Linked DNA regions of Homo sapiens: all the other regions are reported to be linked to region 3. The links are microRNA targets in miRTarBase. Many come from high-throughput screens and were not tested one by one. Region 3 holds a microRNA gene; each other region holds the end of a gene's coding sequence. Distances are between the middles of the regions.

Region 1 (3,125 bases), 82 Mb from region 3:
CCTTCCCTGGAACAATCTGTAGGCTCTAGCCCACTCCCAACCTCCCAGCAGGGATCCATTCGGAACCCTGTCATGTTTGCTTACATGCCTGAAGATTTCCTTTGAGCAAGGGGTTTAAGGAGTATGAAAACCATCGTTGGTTATTCCAAATCTGAACTTCATAGGATCAAACAAGATGAGTATGTTAGCTCTGTCTGGCTCAAACCATCCTTTAGTAAACATACCATTCTCAACAAAATTCAGGCTTTTTGGAACACTGACTATGGTTAGGTTTACGCCATGGTGGTAGCTTGTAGAGTGGTGTTGGAAGCTCGATCCAGATGCTGGTTTCTGTAGGTACCTTCTGCCCAATCACCAATCTTCATGTAGAAACAACCTAGAAATAATCACCCAGAGGCAAGTGCATGTCAAAACTGAGAAATTCGGATGCAGAATTTCAAATTTTCAGTTCTAAAATGTCAACTCAATTAAACATGCTATACTAAAAGAAGAGCCAAGTAGAGAATATCCCTAGGTAAAGCTTAAGAAGAGGAAATGGCTAGAAACCATGAAATTACTACATAAAAAACAAAACAAAACAAAAAAAAACACAAGGTAAGTTTCCCATGTCTTTGATTACTTGTTATCTCAGTACATGAAATGCACGATTTTGCTAATGGTTAAAACTTCACTAATTCTATCTATGCCTACCAGTATTTCTTATTATTTCTAATAAGCATCTAAAACTGACAATTCTTTATTGAAATCAAGAAAACAAAAAATAGAAACCATAAATTTAGTAGCTAAAAGAGACAGTATGCTACCATGAATTGTTTGTCATATGCATTTAACTCAGTGACTACTTTTGGGACCAAAATATACCCAAGTTAATACAGGAATTTAGTTTACACATCAATAGAGATAAAATAAATTCCAGAATTGTTATCTATTCTTTCCACAAGAAAAATCTATTTCTTCCTAATCATACTAACTATAATTGCTAATGTCTTTATTTTTAAATAATCAAAAACCAAAAAGCCAAACAACAACAACAAAAACCTCAAACACATGAAAATCATGACCAAACCAAACTTAAATACTTTTCAGCTACTAGGGAAAAGCAATACAAGTAATTGAGCTAAAGGAAGTTATCCTTTATGAATTCCAAATTTAGAGAAGATATGTTGTATTCCCATAATAACTAACTATAAATACAAAGAAGGAAGAGAATACATTATTAAAACTTTGAGCCCAATTCTATTTAAGTTGGGAGTTTATTAGCAGAAATTCTAATGAATATAATAACTGGAAATATAATTTGGGGCTATAAAAAGCTCTGTACCAAAGTTAACTTTCATCTTATTCTATAATCACATTTAGTCTGAAAGCTTAGGCTAAGGGCTTAAAGGGTTCTCATTGTATAACTTATGATTTTTCTATAAAATATCACTTTAAGTAAAATAAATTAGTAAGGTTTGGCCTGTACAGTATCTATGACATTTCAAAATCTCACCGAATGTTGATTCTAGGCAGTAACTTAAGAAAGTAAAAATCCTTAAAAATTCCAAAATGATAGGAAAATCAGGCTGGATGCATTTCAACTGCGGTGAAAAGGTTAATGGGATTTTAAACTATGAAGTCTACTTTTCCCCTACAGACCCAGTATTTATTTCCTTAAGACTATTTTGGAGCCAATCAACATCATAAATAAAAGATTATTATTCCCACCTTTATGATTTAATGAATCAATAATGTTTTCCTAGCCAAGAACACAGGTAACCTACATAACGTCAGACATCTAAAGCTAGTACAGAAATCATCTAAAGGCTTTGAAATATTTGACCTGATGGCTTTAAGCATTTGTAAATTAATGGCTTTTGGGAGGAAGGAAGAACTAAGGCACTCAAAGATACCACAACATCTTACAATCTATAATGAAAGGAAAAAACTACTAATACTAGTTCTTGAAACTCACAAGTTATAATGTAGAACAAATGTCATTTTAGTTGATTTTCAATGTTTATACATGTGATATAAATTACATGTATGACAACACTAATCCAAAAGAAAATAATGATGTACAAAATGTTTATGATAAGTAAAATTATTGCATTTAATGTCATTTTCATGAAATGAAAATCATCAAATTCCTTAATGTTGTATCAAACGTAAACAATACCAGTTCAAATTAGAGGGAATGTATGTCAACACCAACTTTTGACAAAAATAAGAAAGCTAAAGCCCTACAATTTATCTAATTTAGGTCAGGTAACCATGGAAACAAAAGAATATTAAAATTATTTATTTTATCATTATGCACATTGAAGGAAATCATAACAGACAGTACAGTTCTTTTCCACCATAAAATTATATACACCCATTTATTTAGCTAGAAACACTAGCTTGAGAGGTACTGATATATTCCATTTGTGATACTTTCTGTACAGCAAACAAATGTCTTATATTTGGAGCATGTTGAAGAAAACATTGTCTCAAGTCTTTTTTGTTTTTTTGAGTCTCAATCACTAAGAGTTCAAGGTACTTTGGGAGAATCGTGGTGTCCTGGATGGCCTGATCAATGTATTAAAATCAAGCAGTATGTCTTCTTAAAATACTCTTAAATCCATACAAATGTTGCTTGGGTTGTGGAGCTGAGATTTCTCCTACTGGCATGATAAAATTTGAACATGTGTTATGAAAGTTTCACACCAATTTTGTTTTGTTCCTTCTTCATTAGCCGTTGTGCTTCCTTTTCCATTTTCTTCCTTTGTTGTTCGGCTGCTCTCTTTTCTCTGTCTGCTAGTTTCTGCTGTCTGAAAAGAAACATACTTTTACTTTTAGAAAATACCAAACAGGTAAAATGGCAAATAAATTCTAGAAAGAAATAGCAGTGCCTTTTTATTATCACCAAATAAAATGTTGAAAGTCTTAAAATTTTCTCACTAATTTGAAAATTCCAAATATTTTCAAAAACAGGATTTCTCTTAGTCCTTAGAACGTGACTTGTGAAATAGAAGAAATATTATCTCTATTTTACAAATAAGTAAAATGAGGCATAAAGGCTAAGTGACTTGCCCGAAGTCATAGGATTAAGTACAGGGATAAGAACTCACATCTTCTGACACTTCTTATTTAGATTATCTCCA
Region 2 (3,125 bases), not on the chromosome of region 3:
ATAAAGAAAGTGGCCCAAGACTTCCAGGGCCCCAGAGGGAGCTGTCGGGTCCATTAAGTGTTACTGGGGTTTTTGGTCCCGGTAAGTGTCATTAGCCATGTCCCCCAACCGGTTCTTAGACATGTCCTGATGCAGATCCAGGAGGGGCTGTGGGAGTGTCTCTGTTCTTGTCACCCCAGGTGCCTGTCCCCGCAGGGTGTCAGCCCGCGCCAGGAGCTCTCACAAAACCTGTGTGTCTGGGGAGGCACTGCCCAGAGCGTCCTGGACATGGTGGTGGCCAGTCTTTAAGGGGAAGCGCTGTGTGTGGATGCGGCAGCTGGTGTCATGCTGGAGACGTGGCTTCTGAGAGTACCTACCGCAATGACAGGAGGATGGCACGCCTCTGAAGTTTCTCTGTTTCCTTCTGCAGACGTGGTTAACTTGGACCTCAAATCCACCCTGAGGGTTCTTTACAACCTGTTCACCAAGTACAAGAACGTGGAGTGACGGGGGAGCTGTGGATGGTGGCAGGAGTGTCCCAGCAAGAAAGGCGGCATCCGTCTGTGCCCTGTGCCTTTCCAGGGAGCCAGGCGCCATGGGCTTCTGGTCCAAGCTGTGTTGACTGTCATCCCCACCCCACCCCTACCTCACGCCTGCCCCACCCCCTGCCTCTTTTGGTTGTTGTTCTTAATCTCCTCTCCATGTAGTTCCCAGTGGGCAAGAGCCTTTGAAAATGCAGGATTCTAAACACTCGTGCTTGCGTTTGAAGCCTCGCGTCACTCAGTCGCGTGGGATGATGAGTCCGTTGTTGTCTGCCTTGGCCGAAAGATGAAAAAAAGCCTGAACCCCAACCCCCAGCTGGTTGAGAGCACCCTGCATTCTGCCTCATGGTGCAGTTAGCGATCACAGGCCTTCAGAAGTACAACATCAGCTCAGCAGGAACGCCGGCTCCCCGAGGACCCAGGCTTGACGATTCACCGGGGATCTCCTGGGCTGGGCTCTCCTTGGAAGTGAGGCCTTTTATTAAAAATAAAAGGGTTTTGCAGTTTGAAAAACTTTAAAGTCCCAGAAGCTTAGATGTGACATGGGTGTCCTCCACCCACATTCCTATCACTTCTTGGTCACTCGTTTTAATGTAGGTTTTGCACAAACATCCAAGACTCAGGATGGCCCAGCTCCCACAGTCCTTGAAAGGAGCTGTCTGCTGGGGACGTTTCTTAATTTCTTGCTGTGGTTGAGGGGCTGGGTCTGGAGATGGCTCTAATTGTGCTGCTTGAGACAGCTTGGGTCACAGCTTTCCCCTTCAGAGGCCCTTTTTGGGAATGAATGCATCTTTGGAAACTTTAAAATGAGGGGGGTGCATTGGTTCACTGGCACTGTGTAGTAAAGTGCCACAGGGGAGTGGCTCAGACATCAGAGAATTACATCCTCAGGCCTTTCGCCTTGGCTTGTAGATGCCGGCTTCTCCCCGTGTCTTCACATGGTCTCCCCTCTGTGTGTCTGTGTCCTCACCGCCTCTTTTATTTTATTTTTTATTTTTGTTTTTATTTTTTGAGACAGAGTCTCGCTCTGTCACCAGGCTGGAGTGCAGTGGTGTGATCTCAGCTCACTGCAACCTCTGCCTCCCAGGTTCAAGCGATTCTCCTGCCTCAGCCTCCCAAGTAGCTGGCATTACAGGCAGGTGCCACCACACCTGGCTAATTTTTGTATTTTTAGTAGAGACGGGGTTTCACCATGTTGGCCAGGATGGTCTTGATCTCCTGACCTCATGATCTGCCTGCCTCAGCCTCCCAAAGTGTTGGGATTACAGGCGTGAGCCACTGTGCCCAGCCTATTTTTTTTTTTTTTTTTGAGACAAGTTCTCACTGTGTCACCCAGGAGTAAAGTGGTGCCATCTCAGCTCACTGCAGCCTTGATCTCCCAGGCTCAATTGATCCTCCCACCTCAGCCTCCCAAGTAGCGGGGACCACAAGTGCACACCACTAGGCCCATCTAATTTTTGTATTTTTTGTAGAGATGGGGTTTCACCATGTTGCCCAGGCTGTTCTCAAACCCCTGGGCTTGAGCGACCCACCCACCTCAGCCTCCCAAAGTGCTGGGATTATAGGCATGAGCGGACATGCCCAGCCTGCACCCCTCTTTTTAGAAGGGCTGCGGTCCTATTGGATTAGGGCCCACTTATATGACCTCATTTAATCTTGATTACCTCCATAAAGACCCTGTCTCCAAATACCATCACATCAGAGGTGCTGGGGTTAGGACTTCAGCATGTGGATTTGTGGGGGGCATAATTTGCCTTGTACCGGGAGGATATGAAGTGTTCATGTTACTCTCCCTGTAGCCCTGAGAGCATCTCCCTTAGAGTATCCTATAAAAGGAGTCGCTGCTCACTCAGTTATGGGTTGTTCACCCCCTCGCTCACCCCAGCTCTGCAGAGAACTGGGGATCCCATCGGCCATGCTTTCTGGGCTGGCCTCTGGTCGCAGTCAGTCCCTCGCTGTGGCGCCCCCCCCTCCCCCAGCTCCTTCCCAGGGTGATGACCCGCTGACCCCCTGGGGTGCACCTGCTGCAAAGCAGCCCCCTTCCTTGGCATCTCTCAGCATTCTCCGTAGTGAGCCTGGCCTTTCTGATCTTGTTAGCTTTTTGTCTTCCTGCCGCAGATCAGAGCTTTGGAGTAAGTTTTGATATGAAATCGAATGCCAACACCGAAGTTTTAGAAAACAGTTTAATATTCCCTCTCAGTTCCGGCTGTTGCTAGGCTGGGGATGGGTTCAGAATAGCCATTTTGATGGAGGTGATTTCCCAGCAGGGGAAAGAAATAATTAAAACAGCATTACGGTGTCTCTTGCGGGATGCAGTGACATTCAAAAGCCACACTGACAAAAAGCCTGGGGCTGGAACGTTCTGTGCTGCCTGCATGGCATGTACAGGACCGCGGCCCCCTGGAGCTGGTGGAGTGGCCCAGCCTTGCCCTGCTCACAGGTGGACCTGGAGAGGGCACTGTGCCTTCCCAGGGATTGGGATTTGAAAAGAACAGAGCTTGGCCAGGTGCGGTGGCTCACGCCTGTAATCCCAGCACTTTGGGAGGCTGAGGCAGGTGGATCACTTGGGGTCAGAAGTTCGAGACCAGCCTGGCCAACATGGTG
Region 3 (3,125 bases):
GTACAACCCTTTTGGAAAAGTTAGGTGATTTCCTATAAATCTGAACACATACTTAACCTATGATCCAGCAATTTCACTTCTGGGTTTTTACCCAAGAGAAATGAAAATGTTTTTCTATACCAAAATTTGTACATACTATTCACAACAGCATTGTCCAGAATAGCAAAAAACTGGAAACAAGTCAAATGTTCATCAATAGGCAAATGCATGGAAAAATTATGATAAATCCATACTCACCAGTAAAAAAAAAACAAAAAAACTAGTGATATGCAAACCAACTTGGATAAATCTCAAAAGCACATTGAGTAGAGGAAGTCACTCAAAAGAGTACAGACTGTATTATTCCATTGAGATGATGTTCTAGAAAAACTAAAATGAATCTATAGTTACAGAAATCAGGTAAGTGGTTACCTGGGATGGGATGGTTAGGATGGGATTAACTACAAAAGAGAAATAGGGAAGTTTCTGGGGTGCTATAAATATTTTGATTGATTTAACAGTTACTGAGTGTATATATTTGTTAAAATTCATCAAAGTCTACATTGAAGTGTATGCATTGTATTATATGTAAATTATGCCTCAGTACAGTAGATTTTTTTAAAATGTTCTCGTAGCTCCCCATTGAACACAGGTGTCATCATGGCAAGACATTTCCTAGCTGAGAGATGCTTTTTCATTCTTTCATTCAAAAAGTAGCTTTTTCTTTCCTTCCTTCCTTCCTCTCTTTCTTTCTCTTTCTCTCTTTCTTTCTTTTCTTTCTTTCTCTTTTTTTTAGTGGCAAGGTCTTGTTTTGTCACCCAGGCTGGAGTGCAGTGGTGTGATCATAGCCAATAGAGGGTGCACAGGCACGGGAGCTCAGGTGAGGCAGGGAGCTGAGCTCACCTGACCTCCCATGCCTGTGCACCCTCTATTATATCACTCGTATGTCTACCATTGTTTGCAGATCGTGAGCTGCTTGATGACTGATGCTAGGGTGACCAACCAACCAAGTATGCCCCAAACCAAAGGGTTTCCTGGGCTTCCTGAGCTAAGGGATGTTCAGTGCTAAAACTGGGAGGCCCAGGCAAACGGGGAAAATGGGTCACCTTATCTGAGACCTTGTGCTACTCATCTCTGAAAGCATTCCCAGGCTTAGCCCCCTATCAGGTGGGTGATGTATGCTCAGTAAATGTTTCCTGAAAGGCTAGAATATGTGTGAGTAGGACACTTGAAATTCTCCTTTGGTTTCCCATGCAAACTGAGTCCTACAGTGAGAAAGCCAAGCGTAGTGGCAGATCCTGCCCCAGACACCAGGCTCGCTTGGGTCCTGCCTAGGGCGCCAGCCTCTCTCCCATGTCATTGGTGTTCTGGAAAGCAGATAAACAACTGACTTCAAGTCCTATTTAAGTTTTATGGGGTAGCCAAGGTCTTCCAGGGCTCCATCTCCAGGAAGCCCCCTCCCTGCAGCCTGGCTGGCTTTTCTTCTTCTTCTGGTGAAGTCATCCGACCCCAAGTGGCCCACAGTTTCCTTTCTCTCCACACCTCCCAAACCCGCTGCCCAGTCCTGGCACTGCCTGGGGTTACTGCTGACCTTTCAGTGCTGTTTGCTCAGAAAGTGCCTTTATGTCAACACAAACAGCCTTCAGGTTTGCCAGGGCCTGGCTCCTTTTCTCCCTGGGGTCCAGGGTAGAAAAACAATAACCAGTGGGAAGGAGAGCGAGCCATAGGGGAGTGACGCGTCCCTGGACCTTGGGTCTCTGTCCTCTCAGCCCTGTCCCTCAGGGCCTCCTTTGTCAGAACTCAGTTCTGTGGGGAGAGGGTACTGGGGAGGCAGCGGCTTTAAACAATGCCACAGTGTCTGGCAGGGAGCTGCGTGCTTGACCTGATTAGGCTCAGTGAGCCCGGGGGAGGGAGGGAGTGAAGGCAGGCTTGGGAAAGTGTTTTCCATCCCCACCCAACAGACTTTGCTTCCTTGTATCTCTGCCAAGACCTCTTTTTGGGGAGGAAAGGCCGAATCGCCTCATTTCTACAGGGGCACCTTGGCCTCGCTCCTCTAAACCTGGGTAAGCTCTTTGACCTGCCTGTCCCCCTCCCTCTTGTCTTTCCTTCCCACCAACCAGCTCCCAAACAGAAAGTGTTTTTCACACTCGCAGCTCTCCCTCCTCAGGCCCTGCCAGGCCCGAAGCTGGGCCCAGAGGCCAGCTGGCACCCACATGAAAGGCCTTCCTGTCGAGAACTGGCATGGAACCCAGGGCCTCAAGGCTGCCCACACCACAGCCCTGGCCCAGGGTCCAGAGCACAGGGCCACGGAAACTTGGCCACAAGGCTCTGGGGAGAAAAACAGCCTGAGCCGCACAGGAGAGGAGCCTCCCATCCCCGCAGCCTGGCTGGGCACATCAAGGGAGAAAGCGCAGTGCCCAGAATCCTTTGAACATGAAGCCGCAGCACCTGCACCTGGCAGAGGACCCGGGAACCAGGGATTCGTGCTGGGGGCAGCACTTGGGGTTTGTTAGTGCAGGTGGAGAGAAAACAGGAGAGTAGCAATTTCCAACCCATCAGCAGAAAAAAGTGAAAGCTGAGAAGTCAGGGTGAGGCTGGAGGGGACAGGATGGGGTGGCTGGGTGGGCCCAGAATTGAGATCTGATTTGCAAAATGGTGGCAAAAGGCAACAGACTGCGGCTCCCTTGAGAGAAAAACCTGGTCTCCCAACCGGCAATGGGTGTGGTTATCAAACGCACAGCCATGCCTGTTCCCAGGATGCAGGTGCAGTCTGGATAAACTGAGACTAGGGTTGGGGGGGATCTGTTCAAGGTTGCACAGCACCTTCAAGATGGGGCTTGAACTACAAACCCAGGACTCCGGACCTGGAAAGAATCTCCTAGGAGGTTCTGGAGGGTTCATTCTTGGACAGAAATCTGGGAGAACCTACAGCAAAATGGCAACAATGTGATTGTGGGTAACTTAAAGTTTGTGGTTTTGTGTGTGGTTTTTTGTTTTTTGCTTACCTGTGCTTTCTACTTTTTTTTTTTTTTTTTTTTTTTTTTTTTTACAGTGAGAAAAAAATACCTGTGGGGAAAAAAACATAATGGAAAATAAGAGTTTTGATGAAATGATACACTACACATAAGGTGTTAAGCAGGATGAGG
Region 4 (3,125 bases), not on the chromosome of region 3:
TTGAACAGTACAGAAAAGTAGAAAATGAAACAGATACACATACATGCATACACTACATTTTCCTTATCTGTTCATGTGTTGATGGACACTTAGGTTGATTCCATACCTTGTCACTAAGAAAAGCAGATCATAAACTTTGATCTGTTGTGATTTTGGATCTTAGCACCCAGGCATCCCATCAATACCAAATTTGAAAGATTAGTTGCTTATTGCATGTGTGTAAAAATACTCATAAACTTGAGGGAAGTTCCACAGGCTAATCCTAGTTTGAAGTCTTACAAGTATGAACAATGAGATACTTAGGATTTACTGGAAAGAGCACAAGACTCGGAGTCAAAAAATTTGGGTCTGCTCCATCTGCATTATTTACAAGTTCATGATCCTGGGCAAACCATCACTCCAGCCTGAGTTTTGTCACCTGTGAATTGGGGATAAAATTGGTTACTGCATAGAGTTGCTATTAAAATCAAATGAGATAATGGACTATATATGAGATTGTCTGGTAAAATGTAAAGCCCAATACAAATGTTAAATACTATTGTCACTATTACAACAATTGGTCACAAAGGACATCTGTAAAAAAAATAGAAATGGTATAATGAAAATTCATCCTACTAACAAAAATATAACCAAGCAGAAGCACCTTTCTATTTAAAAAGAATGAATATGATCCTTCCCAGGACATAAAATATGGTACTTGACCTCACACAACTCACAGTGACAGTGGAACCAATCTCCCCCTGTGTGATGACTAATATCCACATGTGCCTAGCATGTACCTCAATTCTCAGATTCAGGTAAGAAAAAGATATGTTTGAGAGAATAGATTAATGAAAGTAGATTAGTGTGATCCATAGGAAGTGAAAAAAAAATATTTAAGAATGCCAAGTGTTGTCCTTTGGATTTCAGATCCCCCTGGAACTGAAACAAAGAAGGCTAGAAAGAAGGAAGAGAATAAGTTGTGTAGAAGGGTCTGTAGAAAGAGGCATGGGGTTCCAAGGAGGGAAGGACATTAGGAAAGTAGCATGTTGTAAAGGAAAGAGCCCTGCACCAGGAGTCAAGAAACAGCTCTAGTCCCAGCACTGCCACAGGCTCTCTATGAAACCCAGGGCAGGCCACTGCCCCTCTCTGGGCATCAGTTTCTCTACCTACAATACAAAGGAGGCATTGTAAAACCAGTTAGCACAGCTATTCAGTCATTTACAAAATATTTATTAAGCGTTTATTATGCAATAGGCAGTGTTCTAGTCACAGAGACGTGGGAGAAAATAAAAACAGACACAGTTCCTACTGCCATGGATCTGGCATTCTAAATGATCTCCCTCCAACTCAAAGACCTGGCACACTAGAACTCTGACTGTAGGCTGTGGTGAGGCCACAGTAGACAGGCAAAATGGCTAAATGACTGAAGAGCAGACAGCGTGACCTCTTCAAAGGCAGTCTATTTTTTTTAAGCAGAATCAAGTGCCCCTCATTCTCATATTGCCCCACTTCAGTTCCTGGGCCTTGGAGCTTAATACAGATCATGGCATCCAACTGACTTTTATTCTGCTTTTTTTTTTTTTTTTGAGACGGCATCTCGCTCTGTTGCCCAGGCTGGAGTGCAGTGGCATGGTCTCGGCTCACTGCCATCTCCACCTCCTGGGTTCATGCCATTCTCCCGCCTCAGCCTCCCGAGTAGCTGGGACTACAGGTGCCCGCCAACACACCAGGCTAATTTTTTGTATTTTTAGTAGAGATGGGGTTTAATCATGTTAGCCAGGATGGTCTTGATCTCTTTTTTTTTTTTTTTTTGAGACGGAGTCCCGCTCTGTCGCCCAGGCCGGACTGCGGACTGCAGTGGCGCAATCTCGGCTCACTGCAAGCTCCGCTTCCCGGGTTCACGCCATTCTCCTGCCTCAGCCTCCCGAGTAGCTGGGACTACAGGCGCCCGCCACCGCGCCCGGCTAATTTGGTCTTGATCTCTTGACCTCGTGATCCGCCCGCCTCAGCCTCCCAAAGCGCTGGGATTACAGGCGTGAGCCTGATTTTTATTCTGAAAGCCAAGGCTAGGGCTCAAAGAAACTTCCAGAAATATAAAGATGTTTTGTTTTGTTTTTCAGTTAGATAATTAGATACATTACAGCAGAGAAATGGGGAAATTATTTGATACTTTTTAAAAAGCATATCTAAAATGACTAACATTAATGTATAGGTAAAATTTCATAAAAATTAATGATCACTATAATTGTTCCTAATCTCTGTTTTCTATACTAGGAAAAACACAATTTATATATGAATTTTTGCTATATGTAGACAGAATTGTTCCTAATCTCTGCTTTTTATAATAGGAAAAACACGATTTATATATGAATTATTTGCTATATGTAGAGAGAATATAATACCTCTTTTACCAAACATGAAGCCCTAGCCTTGATTTCTGTGGTACATTAAAAAAATATACTTTGCATTGCCAAAAGAGACATAGTATTGGGTTTTGATCCGTATTTTCTGTTGCTCATTCATTACATTGGTGTAAAAGAAGGAAAATCTTAAAAGACATGGAAAGCAGCTCCCTTATAGAGAGCTATCAAAAGAGCGTCCCAAGAGTGTCCTGACCACACTTTTCTTCCCAGATCATGGGCCCCAGCATCTCCGAGCACACACTGTCTTCCACAGGATCTTCTGACAAGTCTGCTTCACCCTAGGAATCCCCATGATCAATATGAGAGAATGAAGAGAAGGATAGGCTGCCATGAGTGTCTCCCAGATGAAGACACTGGTGAGATCAGGAGGATAAGTCTTGGAGGTGATGGAGAAGGGGCTGGCCATGATATAAACCAGGTGAAGTAAGAGGAAGCAGCCCAAGGACTTCAGCGCAGTGATGTGAGCCTTGGCCCGGACATCCCTCCTACCAGCTGAATGGACCTTCATCTTCTTGTGGTGTGTATACAAAGAGACAATCAGCATCCCAGAGGAAACAAGAAACACCACTAAAGGCAAATAACTTCCTGAATTGAGCTGAAATGCATACAGGTACTGCCAGCTTTCAAAGGGATACCGAATGCTGCTGTTTCCTTGGGGAGGATGATAGAATGTTAAGCCAATTTGGACTGTAAGTAACAAATTGATTATAAAGTAGCCCA

What was found. The annotated mature microRNA hsa-miR-3622b-5p reads AGGCAUGGGAGGUCAGGUGA and lies in region 3 at 879-898, opposite strand. An mRNA with a match to its seed (bases 2 to 7 or 8) in the 3' UTR can be bound and repressed. Matches are read on the target gene's strand: a 7mer-m8 pairs with bases 2 to 8, a 7mer-A1 pairs with bases 2 to 7 and ends in A, and an 8mer does both.
Region 1: the mRNA of EBAG9 is a reported target of hsa-miR-3622b-5p. Seed matches in the 3' UTR shown: 7mer-A1 at 2,647-2,653.
Region 2: the mRNA of PARVB is a reported target of hsa-miR-3622b-5p. The part of its 3' UTR that is shown has no 7-base or 8-base seed match.
Region 4: the mRNA of TAS2R5 is a reported target of hsa-miR-3622b-5p. The part of its 3' UTR that is shown has no 7-base or 8-base seed match.

Annotation. Positions count from the first base shown.
Region 1 is chr8:109,564,106-109,567,230 of GRCh38, reverse strand. EBAG9 (estrogen receptor binding site associated antigen 9) reads right to left here. Exons shown (of 7, transcript NM_004215.5): 7 at 1,235-2,792. The coding sequence ends at 2,672. Among named protein-coding and RNA genes, the nearest start is that of EBAG9, 25 kb to the right of the region's middle.
Region 2 is chr22:44,168,193-44,171,317 of GRCh38, forward strand. PARVB (parvin beta) reads left to right here. Exons shown (of 13, transcript NM_013327.5): 13 at 410-3,125. The coding sequence ends at 486. Among named protein-coding and RNA genes, the nearest start is that of PARVG, 11 kb to the right of the region's middle. RefSeq lists enhancers at 1-14, 1,905-2,426.
Region 3 is chr8:27,700,848-27,703,972 of GRCh38, forward strand. It overlaps MIR3622B (microRNA 3622b), which reads right to left and starts at 920; the gene lies at 826-920. It overlaps MIR3622A (microRNA 3622a), which reads left to right and starts at 830; the gene lies at 830-912. It overlaps LOC124901920 (a long non-coding RNA gene), which reads left to right and starts at 123. Exons shown (of 2, transcript XR_007060869.1): 1 at 123-3,125. It also overlaps a transcript of SCARA3 not described here. RefSeq lists a silencer at 2,287-2,432.
Region 4 is chr7:141,790,753-141,793,877 of GRCh38, reverse strand. It overlaps TAS2R5 (taste 2 receptor member 5), which reads right to left. Exons shown (of 1, transcript NM_018980.3): 1 at 2,511-3,125. The coding sequence ends at 2,617. Among named protein-coding and RNA genes, the nearest start is that of TAS2R5, 2.1 kb to the right of the region's middle.